Regions from separate parts of the Homo sapiens genome. Here region 2 is linked to region 1. A link means that fine-mapping ties the variant in region 1 to the expression of a gene that starts in the linked region. Tissue or cell type: monocytes after LPS. Region 1 holds a variant in brackets; the other region holds the start of a gene. All regions are shown on one strand. Distances are between the middles of the regions.

Region 1 (6,035 bases):
GTAAATACTTATGTCACTGGCTAATTTTTCCTCTTCCTTCAAATTAGAATTATCTCATTTTCCAAGGGATCCCTTCTTTTTCTCTCTCCTAAAAGGTGCTTCCCTTCTTCACTGAACACTTCTCAAATTCAGAGTTCTTTCTTTAACCCGATGTCCGACAACTGTCCAGCCAGACAAGGGGCCATCATCACCCATTAAATTACAAGTCCATATTTATTACTCCTTTCTTTCCCTTCATTCCACACCATCTAGTTTCTTGTCCTACTATAAAAAAGAGTGATAAAAAGGAGTCAGTTCTATTTGCGGTCAAATGGAAACATGCTTAAAAAATGGCGCTTAAATTAATTTTCTACCTTCCAAAAAGGAAGGGAAAATGATCAGTATCCTTTAAGTCTCTGGTGTTTTTTCCTAAAAGTCAAATTTAACGCTAGCCAGAGTTATTAACACCTTAAAGATTAACATATCATAAACATGAAAAGAGCTATTCATAGGATTCCAGTTACCAAGCATTAGAACGCATGCATTTCATTTATGTTGATGTTTTATGATTTCTAATTTTAAAAAACTGGAAAATAAACTATTTTTTAGAAACGATTTAAAATAGTACACCCAGAATTAGAGAAATAAAAGTATCAAAGTAACAGTAAAAGGAAGGAAGAAATAAAGTAAATCAAGGAAGAAGCAATAGCAAATAAGAAAGAAAAAAAGGAAAGGAGGAAAACAGCGAAATAGATGTGAGTGTACAGTAGGGGGTAAATGAATGCATCACAGTTTCAATTTATTATTAATTTAACTATTTCCAGAACAATCCATCAGAATCCACAGGAACACTAGTAAGTTCTTGGATTCAGAAACAGACACAGCCTGTATCTTCCAGTAGTACCGAGTACTCTCTTTAGGAGGTGCCATTTACATACAGTTTCTAGGGAAAAGGATGTTAAATAGAACATGCCAGAAATGTTTCTTAATTACCCCATCTTTTTAATTGGTTTCAGAAATGGCCAACAGTCTCTGTATCATCATTCTGACAGTCTCTTCTCTATATGACTTGCTGAAAGCACAAGACCTGTATGATCTCCCTGGTCACTCACAGAGAAGACAAACAAAAAGTGTTTTATGAACAATTCCAACAGATTTCAGAAGAAGAAATTGCATCAGACAGGTGAGGCGGAAGCAGCTGGCAGACAAAAGTCCAATAAACAACCAATCCAACGAAAGAAATTCAGAACAAGTCTGCTTCAGTAATCCTGTGAAGAGGACTGGCAGGAAGAGGAGTGCCGCTTCAGAAAGAGAACAGGCCTCATATGCTTCAGACAGTCTTTGTATTGAGGCTGTGGACCTTGGCCATTCTCCCAGAAATGATGCAATCCTGATGAACAAGATCTGCTGCCAGAGAAACAATTGTTAACAGCCTATGCAGACAGCAACTCAGCCAAGGAGCAATCTCTGATCAACTCTCTCCATAAACCAACAGAACGCCAAAATCTCTCTTCCTCAATTTCAGTGTCTGACAAAACATAAAGTGAACACAGTATATATTAAGATACATAAGAACAAGCCATTTTCTCAAAGGGTCCTTTTTCTTTTAATTCCTTAGGCTGTACAATATCCATTATTAAATTTCAGATAAAATACTGAACATTTTTTACTTTTATAAATACAATTATCCAAGCACATCAATAGTAATAACATAAATATGAAAATTTATACTTATTTTCCTCATTCTCATAAGAAAACCTTTTTGGGAGGCAGTGGCTTCCCTAAGCATAAAAACTGCTCTGAAATCTATCATCCAGCTATAACATTTCAAGTAAACACAAATATACATACACTCTAATTCAGAGACAGAAAGTATATTTCATAGATATTTTTGAAAGTAGATAAAAGTCAATGTTAAATATTGGCATCTATCAGAGAAAAGAGAAAATCTAATCTTGCTTAGGCTGACATATAAGGTATGCTGATAACAACCACTTTTTTGCAGGGCAACAATATTACTTCAGATCTTACTAAAGGATCAGATTATTTTCATCTTATTAGCCACGATTTACTAATTTAGAATCTAACTTAAAAATATCCTCAATTTAATAATCTTCCCTAGAATCCTCATCTCCTAGGCCTGGTTTCTTTTTCAGAAGTTTTGGTATCAGGTTTTTCACACAGTATTATAAAATTATAAAAAGTTATTTTTTTCTCACTAAATAAAAGATCCTGTATAAAGCACTTCTCTAAACTTCAACTAGCCAAAAGTCATGACTAACCAAATTTCTTCCTTTTGAAAGCAATAACCCTTAAACTGGGATTCATGAAAAAACACAAATATCTAAGATATATCCTGAAATAAATCTATTCAGCCCAATCTATTACTTCTATATACTACTAAATAACGAAAATGAACAGATATACAGAATAGCTCTGAAGCACTAAAAAAATCTTTAATAGGTCAATAAATGAATAAATTTAACTCAGGAAGAGAAAACACTTTTTGGGAATATTTCAAAAGGGTTAAAGTAGCTAATAAGTTTTTAAAAATCCAATTTCTGAACTTGATTATTCAAAATTTTGTTGTTACATATAGGCTGAATTTCTTCTTAAATACATCTATAGTTCTTCGATTTATCTTTTGAATGACTTTACCTTGTATGAGAATGAATGTGGCAGCTGCATTATATACTTATCTTCATCTCCATCTCAAAGTCAAATATCTCAAGTAAAATCACCGTAGCTGTACCATGACAAACAGCCTTTTACCTTAGGAGAAGAAAAGTATGCTAGGAAAAAGCACTCTTAGAGGCCAGGTGCGGTGGCTTGCACCTGTAATCCTAGCACTTTGGGAGGCTGAGGCAGGAGGATTGCTTGAGCCCAGGAGTTTAAGACCAGCCTGGGCAACATAGTGAGACCCATCTCCTAAAAAAATAAAAAAAGAAAAGAAAAAAAAGGCACTATATTAGGAGTTAGGAGACTTGAGTTCTAGCCTACAACATAATTAGTGACCTCAGAAAAATCACTTTACATAGATGAACCCTAAATTCCTCAAAGTAAAATCTTCATTGTGTTGTCTTCCTGCTCCAAATTTCTATGAATCCTGGCACTGCTGCCAACTAGCTCAGGCAATTCATAGAATGTCTCAAAGTCTCAGTTTTCTCATCTGTACAATAAAAAAAAAAAAAATACCTGTTGTGCTGACTCATAGGAGCACATGGAACAGCATTTGTAGCAAGTAAGAGCTTAAATAACTTTCTGGTCCCTTTAAGTATATGTGAAGAAAGAGGAGCTGCTGCTAATAACCTGAATATGGCTAAACACTGTTTTTACTCTTCTCCAAAAGCATATATTTCAAGTTTGCTACAGCAGATAATGTGGAAAGAAAAAATGTGAGAAACATGAAAAAAAAAAA[T/AAT]GAGAGAGAAGTGTTAAGCATAAGAAGAAACAAATATGAGTTACTGGAAAACAAAGAGATGAACTCTAAAAGAGCACTTGGAGATACAGTGAAAAGTTCATGTATTTGGAACAGTAAAATTAGGCTTATAATCTGAAGCAAGTTAATGCAAGCAAAGAATTTTAGGGGTTCGGGACTGAAAGGAAAAAAGAAAAGAGAGAAACACTGATTGGGGTAAGCACTGAGAGACAGGAAACATCATGATTTAGTAATTTAAAGCAAAAATAAAAATTTCCTTTTCTCCCATCTCTTCTACAATACCAGTTTATTCCTTGATTCCTTTGCCTAAATTTATACTCCCTCTAGGAGCTACTGAGCTCGGCACAATAAACCGATGTCTATAAGAAATCTAAGTTTACTAGAATAAAAGGCCATTAAAAGACAACTGAAAAAAAATCCTAGTCTATATTAAGAATTTCCTTCTCCGTAAAAAACTTCATAATTAGTGCGTATTATAGAGACCAAGTCATACTTAGTAGTATGTGGAGCAGAAGAGGGGAGTGGCAGTAGGATAAGACTACATATCATAAATAACAGAATTATTATTATTATTATCTAAATATTGTGATCATAAATTATTTTAACACTGAAGAAAAATATTTTATTTACAACCCATTTAACAATGATAAAAAGGTATTTACTGCTCAACTAACCAACAATACACAGACTCTTTGTAACCTTAACAACAATCAGGAAGATTTTAGACTTCTAAGTACCAAATAAAGATGATGCCCTCAAATAATTTAGACTGACTAAACCTCTTTAAAGAGTTATACTCTCAACACTTTCTGAAGGTTCTGTTCTACTGTGTTCTGAGGCTCAGAACATGTGTTAGAGACCAATGTACCAAAGTAGAGTAGGAAAAGAACTTCTCATATCTCTACACGTGCCTCCTCTCTGTGAATTCAGATCTTCTTCATTTTCAAACCCCAAAATGGGAGCCACTTTTACTTACTATAGATGAAGTGGGTTGTGCACATTTATGAGCCATTAATATCTGTATTTTTACTTTCATTAATTTAAGCAAAATTTCTCCAACCGATGAACAAACAGAAATGAAGAAATAGAGCTACAAAAAGATTAACTTGTATGAAGTTCACTACACACCTACAGTAGTAAAGTTCAGAGGAAAGAAAATTAAGATGTTAATATATAGCTTGTTTATTATAGTAATTACTACTTACCTTAGATAGCAACATCTGAGTTATAACTAATTGTTTTTATTTTTATTTTTGAGACAGGGTCTGTCACTCAGGTTGGAGTGCTTTGGTGCAATCACAGCTCACCGCAACCTCAACCTCCTGGGCTCAAGCGATCCTCTCACCTTAGCCTCCCAAGTAGCTGGGACCACAGACGCATACTGCCATGCCCAGCCTTGTTTTTATTAAGTACCAATTGGTGCTATGTAAGACAATTAGGTCCAGATAAAATTCCTGGCTGTCTTGGGATTTATATTATGTAGATTTGCTACTTTTTTCATTCATTCATTCAACAAACATGAAGTAACTACTATTAATATACATATATTACTATGTTAAGTGCTATTTTAAGAGGTTTATTTTATCCAAAGTAGAAAAGGGTAGGCAACTTGCAAACTGTTCAGGTTTGCCTATGTGCCAAGTACTGCATTTATACAACCATGAAGGGGGAGAAAAATCCTGTAAGTGGGCCGGGTGTGGTGGCTCATGCCTGCAATCCCAGCACTTTGGGAGGCCAAGGCGGGTGGATCACCTGAGGTCAGGAGTTTGAGACCAGCCTGGCCAAGATGATGAAACCCCGTCTCTACTAAAAATACAAAAATCAGCCAGGCATAGTGGTGGACACCTGTAATCCCAGCTACTTGGGAGGCTGAGGCAGGAGAATCGCTTGAATCCAGGAGGTGGAGGTTGCAGTGAGCCAAGATTACACCACTGCGCTCTAGAAACCCTAAAATGAAAGTTATCTGCAAATTCCCAATGTTTATGTATGTGATTCACATTTTTTTTTTTTTGAGACGGAGTTTCGCTCTTGTTGCTCAGGCTGGAGTGCAATGGCAGGATCTCAGCTCACTGCAACCTCCACCTCCCGGGTTCAAGCAATTCTCTTGTCTCAGCCTCCTGAGTAGCTGGGATTATAGGTGCCCACCACCACACCCAGCTGATTATTGTATTTTTAGTAGAGACGGGGTTTCACCATGTTGGCCAGGGTGGTCTTGAACTCCTGGGCTCAGGTGATCTGCCTGCTTCAGCCTATGTGATTCACTTTTAAGACTACTACTGACTGGATGTCCTGTAAAGTTCTTACACACTAAATATTAGATCTTAGTTGCATTTCTACAAATTTGGGCTAGGAGCTTCAAAATAAACCCTAGCTGAAGCAATATTCAGAACCAAAGTACTTTCTTATAGTTGTCCTTTGACATAACCTTTAATTCTTTTAATAGACCGCACTAAGCTCTAAATTTCTTCTTTCTGTAATGAAAAAAACTTATGCTAGCCATCTGTAATCTAGCTGGCATCTGTAGAGGTCTGACTGCAAATGCAAATAAACTAGAAGATTTGAGTGCTTCGTTTCAAACAAATTATCAAAACTCTGTTCTAGCACTTTGGGAAGCCGAGGC
Region 2 (5,517 bases), 23 kb after region 1:
TGCATCTTATCTATGTGATAGTAATAAGAATTGGAACCTCCTAAAATAGTATCCATTAAAGGTTCTGTTTCATTGGTCTGCTTTTATTACTGGGAAAACAATGTGAGCCACATTTGTGAATGACAAAACTCATTTCCATTCTTTTTGGTTCTCTGCCACAAATGCCAGAGTGATACTACAAATTATAGATGTTTGTGAGATTTAAGTACATTTACACGAAAATGAACAAATCAAAATTCTGAGAGAAAAAAGTATAGGATACACGAGTCTTGGGGAAGAAAAACAGCACACAGGAATATGTCCAGTATTGCATATAATTGGTGGTGGTGGTTCTCCTTCAAGTTTTTCCACGCTCAGACTGTTTTGCTTAATCAGAGATCATCCTAATGTTCAGGAGTTGTGGGGGAGGGGAGATCACCTAAGGGGCTCAGAGGCCATCTTCTCAGTATCCTGAACTAGACTTATTCGATTTCTGCATATTTCTTCTGGTCTGTCCTACATTTCAGATGGATTATGGCCAAAGACATATATTTGTGATGTCAGAAGGCTATATCCAACATGTATATAATGAATCAATCTTATAAGTCAAACTCCAAAGAAAATATCTAATCTGGAGAAGTTTATTACTAATATACAAATTAAAAATATTTATTTAGAAACCACTCCAAAATGGCACCTTTTTAGAGTTTAAGAGTTCAAGCTTAGTAAAATGTTTAGCAAATCGTCTATAAGGTAAATGTGGTCTAATCGAAAGGATGGAGACACATAACAAAATAATAAGAATTGATTCTATGATTAAAGAGATGGAGGAAGGCATGATATGTGAGCTGCAGGAAAAAATTCCTGTTATTTTCTTCCTATTGTGGTTATCAGAAAGATTCTTAAAATTATTACTTGGGTTTTTAAACTGATTGAAAAATTAAAACTCTAATGGAACTTTTAGTCCTATCCAAGCACAAATGTCTAGATAAAAAACAAAAATCTGCCAAAAAACAAAAATCAAATCAAACAAACAAAAAAAGAAAGGCTTTAACCATGATCCAGTTTCCAGATGCCAATATCCATAAATGGGTAGGAGATTATGAATTACTAATTCCCATCTCCCCACCAATAAAAAGCAAACCAGCTCAGCAGTGAAAATTCCCAGAAAAGCAAGGTTTCTTCTTAGTCCTGAAGCAGCCATCGCCTAAGTGCTGCTCCCTGCAGCCAGCAGCATTAATGGACGCTGCACTGCTGTCCTTCCCTGGAGACAGCAGCCAGCACTACTCAAGCTTCTCACGTAGCAACCAGAGCTCCAGAGCCAGCAGCTGCTGCTGCCTTGTATACTCACCCCTGTGATCCAACCCAAAGGAACAACCTTCTCTTTACCCCACCCCCACTCCTTACACACACTTTTTTTTTTTTTTTTTGGACCAGTGCTCCATGCCAGAAGGGCTGGAATTATGCTTTTAAGAAAGAAACAATCCTAAGGTCACCCTTTTAAACCAAGGCCTTTTATTAGAAAAATCAACATTTACCAAATTCTAAATATCCATTTTAATTAAGCCAGCAGTTTAGGAGTGAAGATTAAGCTTTGGTCTTTTGAAAGCCAATTTCCCAAGCACTCTACAATCTAATTTAAATTTGCAGCTAGAAACAGAGCCTTGTGTCATGTCCTACCAAAGGGCATAATTCATTTTTCTACACATAATGACAGTCTGAGTAAACCTTAAAGACTCTAATCCCATAACAGGCCAGAATTTTTGGCTACAGAAGAGAACTAATGATCCTGAGAAAACTGGAAGAAATCCAATAGAAAAAAAAAAGCCCTACGTCCTCTATGGAGCCCAGAAACCTCTGATTACGTGGGTATTCTCTGCTTTAGTCCTAGCTCAGATCCCACACATCTAAAATTACCACTTAGAACTTTCTGTGACCTAAAAACATTAATAATATAAAATTAACAACCAAAAAATAATTTCAAATAGGGAGTACACACTCTCCTAAAAAGCTCAGCACACTCCACTCAGCTGGATCCTCCCCAATCACAAGTATAGCTATGTAACATCTGTCCAACAAAGAAATGTAAATATGACCTTGGTCACAAATATGTCATCTAAAAACTTGTTTAGTCAACTGATGAAGGTAATTAGCACAGAACTTGGGGATTCGTTCAGTACCTATGTGCAGGAAGGAAACTGGAGAAATGAACTTAAATATAGACAAAGCCCAGTGGAACCCAGAGGTCTGGGAAAGAAATGAGTTACCGGTGAATACATTGCACAAGTAACATGAGAAAGCAGAAAATGCAGGTCATACACGCACCCCTGACCCAGACCAGCAGAGCTGACTGCAGCATCCATATCCAAGAGAAAGACCACTGACGCCCAAGAAGTGAGACAAGCAAGGACTCTATAGAATCAATTAGCATAGAAGGGGCTTTCCCAACAGTTTAACTTTCCCTCTCATGCGATTTACCTACTTGAACCAGGGCTCTTTCCTACACTCCTCTTCACATTCCCGACTTACACGCAGAGGGAAAGAGAATTCATAAAGGGAATATTTTTCTGCCTTTGAAGATATTCTCACAAGATCGTTCTCCACGCCCAAGGCAAGTAAAACGACACAATCTGGCTCAACTCCAGGCTCGAACCCTACACATTCAACGAGGCTATCTCAGACACGCTGTGGCACACGCCACGGGGAGCCAGAGAACGTGTGGTGGGGGTGGCGAAGGTAATGCCTTTGGGAAGCAGCCATCTGAGGTGGGAAGCCAGAAAACGAGAGGGAAGGCGTCCAGGAAGATTACGGAGGGGAGATCGCGGCCCCCAGAGCGATCAGAGTTGTCTGTCACAAGGCCGCGAGAACGGGGGTAGGGAGTGGGGGATCGGGGAGAGAAAAAAAGTATGCCTGTGTATTTCGAGCGGAGGGCAGCAAGAGGCCTCTCCTCAAGGGAAAGGTAAACGTGGAGTAGGCAGTTCCCAGGAAAGGGGGTGAAGAGGCGTTGGGGGAGGGGAAGCGTCCTGACCCAGGAAAAACATGAAAGGGGGAGTTGGGTCGCCTAGATTAGAGGGGGATCTCTCTCCCTGGGAAAATGGGGTGTTGCAACGGTGTGTGCAAGGCGGCGAGGGGGGTGAGAAGTGGCAGCATCCTCCTAAGAGCTTGGGGAGGGCCAGGCCCACGACCCAAGGAGAGCGAGCGCGGGGAGACGGAGGAGGTGACCCTTCCCTCCCCTGGGGCCCGATCGTGAGGTTCGGTCTCTTTTCTGTCGGACCCTTACCTTGTCCCAGGCGCTGCCGGGGCCTGGGCCCGGGCTGCGGCGCACGGCACTCCCGGGAGGCGGCAGGACTCGAGTTAGGCCCAACGCGGCGCCACGGCGTTTCCTGGCCGGGAATGGCCCGTACCCGTGAGGTGGGGGTGGGGGGCAGAAAGGCGGAGCGAGCCAAAGGCGGGGAGGGGGGGCAGGGCCAGGGAAAGAGGGGGGCCGGCACTACTGTGTTGGCGGACTGGCGGGACTGGGGCTGCGTGAGTCTCTGAGCGCAGGCGGGCGGCGGCCGCCCCTCCCCCGGCAGCGGCGGCGGCGGCGGCGGCGGCGGCGGCGGCGGCAGCTCACTCAGCCCGCTGCCCGAGCGGAAACGCCACTGACCGCACGGGGATTCCCAGCGCCGGCGCCAGGGGCACCCGGGACACGCCCCCTCCCGCCGCGCCATTGGCCTCTCCGCCCACCGCCCCGCACCCATTGGCCCACTCGCCGCCAATCAGCGGAAGCCGCCGGGGCCGCCTAGAGAAGAGGCTGTGCTTCGGCGCTCCGGCTCCTCAGAGAGCCTCGGCTAGGTAGGGGAGCGGAACTCTGGTGGGAGGGGAGGTGCGGTACACTGGGGGGATGGGTGGCTAGGGGGGCCGTCTGGTGGCTTGCGGGGGTTGCCTTTCCCGTGGGAAGTCGGGAACATAATGTTTGTTACGTTGGGAGGGAAAGGGGTGGCTGGATGCAGGCGGGAGGGAGGCCCGCCCTGCGGCAACCGGAGGGGGAGGGAGAAGGGAGCGGAAAATGCTCGAAACCGGACGGAGCCATTGCTCTCGCAGAGGGAGGAGCGCTTCCGGCTAGCCTCTTGTCGCCGATTGGCCGTTTCTCCTCCCGCCGTGTGTGAAAACACAAATGGCGTATTCTGGTTGGAGTAAAGCTCCTGTCAGTTACGCCGTCGGGAGTACGCAGCCGCTTAGCGACTCTCGCGTTGCCCCCTGGGTGGGGCGGGTAGGTAGGTGGGGTGTAGAGATGCTGGGTGTGCGGGCGCGGCCGGCCTCCTGCGGCGGGAGGGGAGGGTCAGTGAAATCGGCTCTGGCGCGGGCGTCCTCCCACCCTCCCCTTCCTTCGGGGGAGTCGGTTTACCCGCCGCCTGCTTGTCTTCGACACCTGATTGGCTGTCGAAGCTGTGGGACCGGGCCCTTGCTACTGGCTCGAGTCTCACATGAGCGAAACCACTGCGCGGGGCGCGGGGGTGGCGGGGAGGCGGGCGTTGGTACGGTCCTCCCCGAGGCCGAGCGCCGCAGTGTCTGGCCCCGCGCCCCTGCGCAACGTGGCAGGAAGCGCGCGCTGGAGGCGGGGGCGGGCTGCCGGCCGAGACTTCTGGATGGCGGCGGCCGCGGCTCCGCCCCGGGTTCCCACCGCCTGAAGGGCGAGACAAGCCCGACCTGCTACAGGCACTCGTGGGGGTGGGGGAGGAGCGGGGGTCGGTCCGGCTGGTTTGTGGGTGGGAGGCGCTTGTTCTCCAAAAACCGGCGCGAGCTGCAATCCTGAGGGAGCTGCGGTGGAGGAGGTGGAGAGAAGGCCGCACCCTTCTGGGCAGGGGGAGGGGAGTGCCGCAATACCTTTATGGGAGTTCTCTGCTGCCTCCCGTCTTGTAAGGACCGCCCTGGGCCTGGAAGAAGCCCTCCCTCCTTTCCTCCTCGCGTGATCTCGTCATCGCCTCCATGTCGAGTCGCTTCTCGATTATGGGCGGGATTCTTTTGCCTAGGCTTAAGGGGCTAACTTGGTCCCTGGGCGTTGCCCTGCAGGGGAGTGAGCAGCTGTAAGATTTGAGGGGCGACTCCGATTAGTTTATCTTCCCACGGACTAGAGTTGGTGTCGAGGTTATTGTAATAAGGGTGGGGTAGGGAAATGGAGCTTAGTCATTCACCTGGGGCTGATTTTATGCAACGAGACTGCGGATTATCACTACTTATCATTTTTGGAGCATTTTTCTAGAGACAGACATAAAGCATGATCACCTGAGTTTTATACCATTTGAGACCCTTGCTGCACCACCAAAGTGTAGCATCAGGTTAAATCTTAATAGAAAAATTTTAGCTTTTGCTTGAGAAACCAGTGCTTCCCTCCCTCACCCTCTCTCCCCAGGCTCTCTACCCCTTTGCATCCCTACCAGGCATCTTAGCAACTCTCACTCATACTTGATCCCATTTTCCATTTGTTGTACTTGCTCCTCTAGTATTCAGACATAGCACTAGCTTTCTCCCTCTCTTGATCTTGGGTAGCCTGGTGTC

Alleles and levels. Positions count from the first base shown, and alleles are read on the strand shown. Sizes are in standard deviations (SD) of each study's normalised expression.
For the expression in monocytes after LPS of the gene that starts at base 3,622 in region 2, allele AAT in region 1 goes with a lower level than allele T (moderate effect, 0.70 SD a copy in Quach 2016).

What was found. PIP is the estimated chance that this variant, and not a neighbour inherited with it, causes the effect.
Region 2: it holds the start of SETD5, and the variant in region 1 is fine-mapped to the expression of SETD5 in monocytes after LPS (Quach 2016, PIP 0.95).

The regions. Positions count from the first base shown.
Region 1 is chr3:9,418,195-9,424,229 of GRCh38, reverse strand. The region is part of intron 1 of SETD5 (SET domain containing 5); the gene reads right to left. Among named protein-coding and RNA genes, the nearest start is that of SETD5, 24 kb to the right of the region's middle. The variant T/AAT (reference allele first, on the strand shown) is at 3,398.
Region 2 is chr3:9,395,720-9,401,236 of GRCh38, reverse strand. SETD5 (SET domain containing 5) reads right to left here and starts at 3,622. Exons shown (of 23, transcript NM_001080517.3): 1 at 3,260-3,622. It overlaps THUMPD3-AS1 (THUMPD3 antisense RNA 1), which reads left to right and starts at 4,614. Exons shown (of 4, transcript NR_132781.1): 1 at 4,614-4,677. RefSeq lists an enhancer at 2,755-2,804 and a silencer at 3,415-4,724.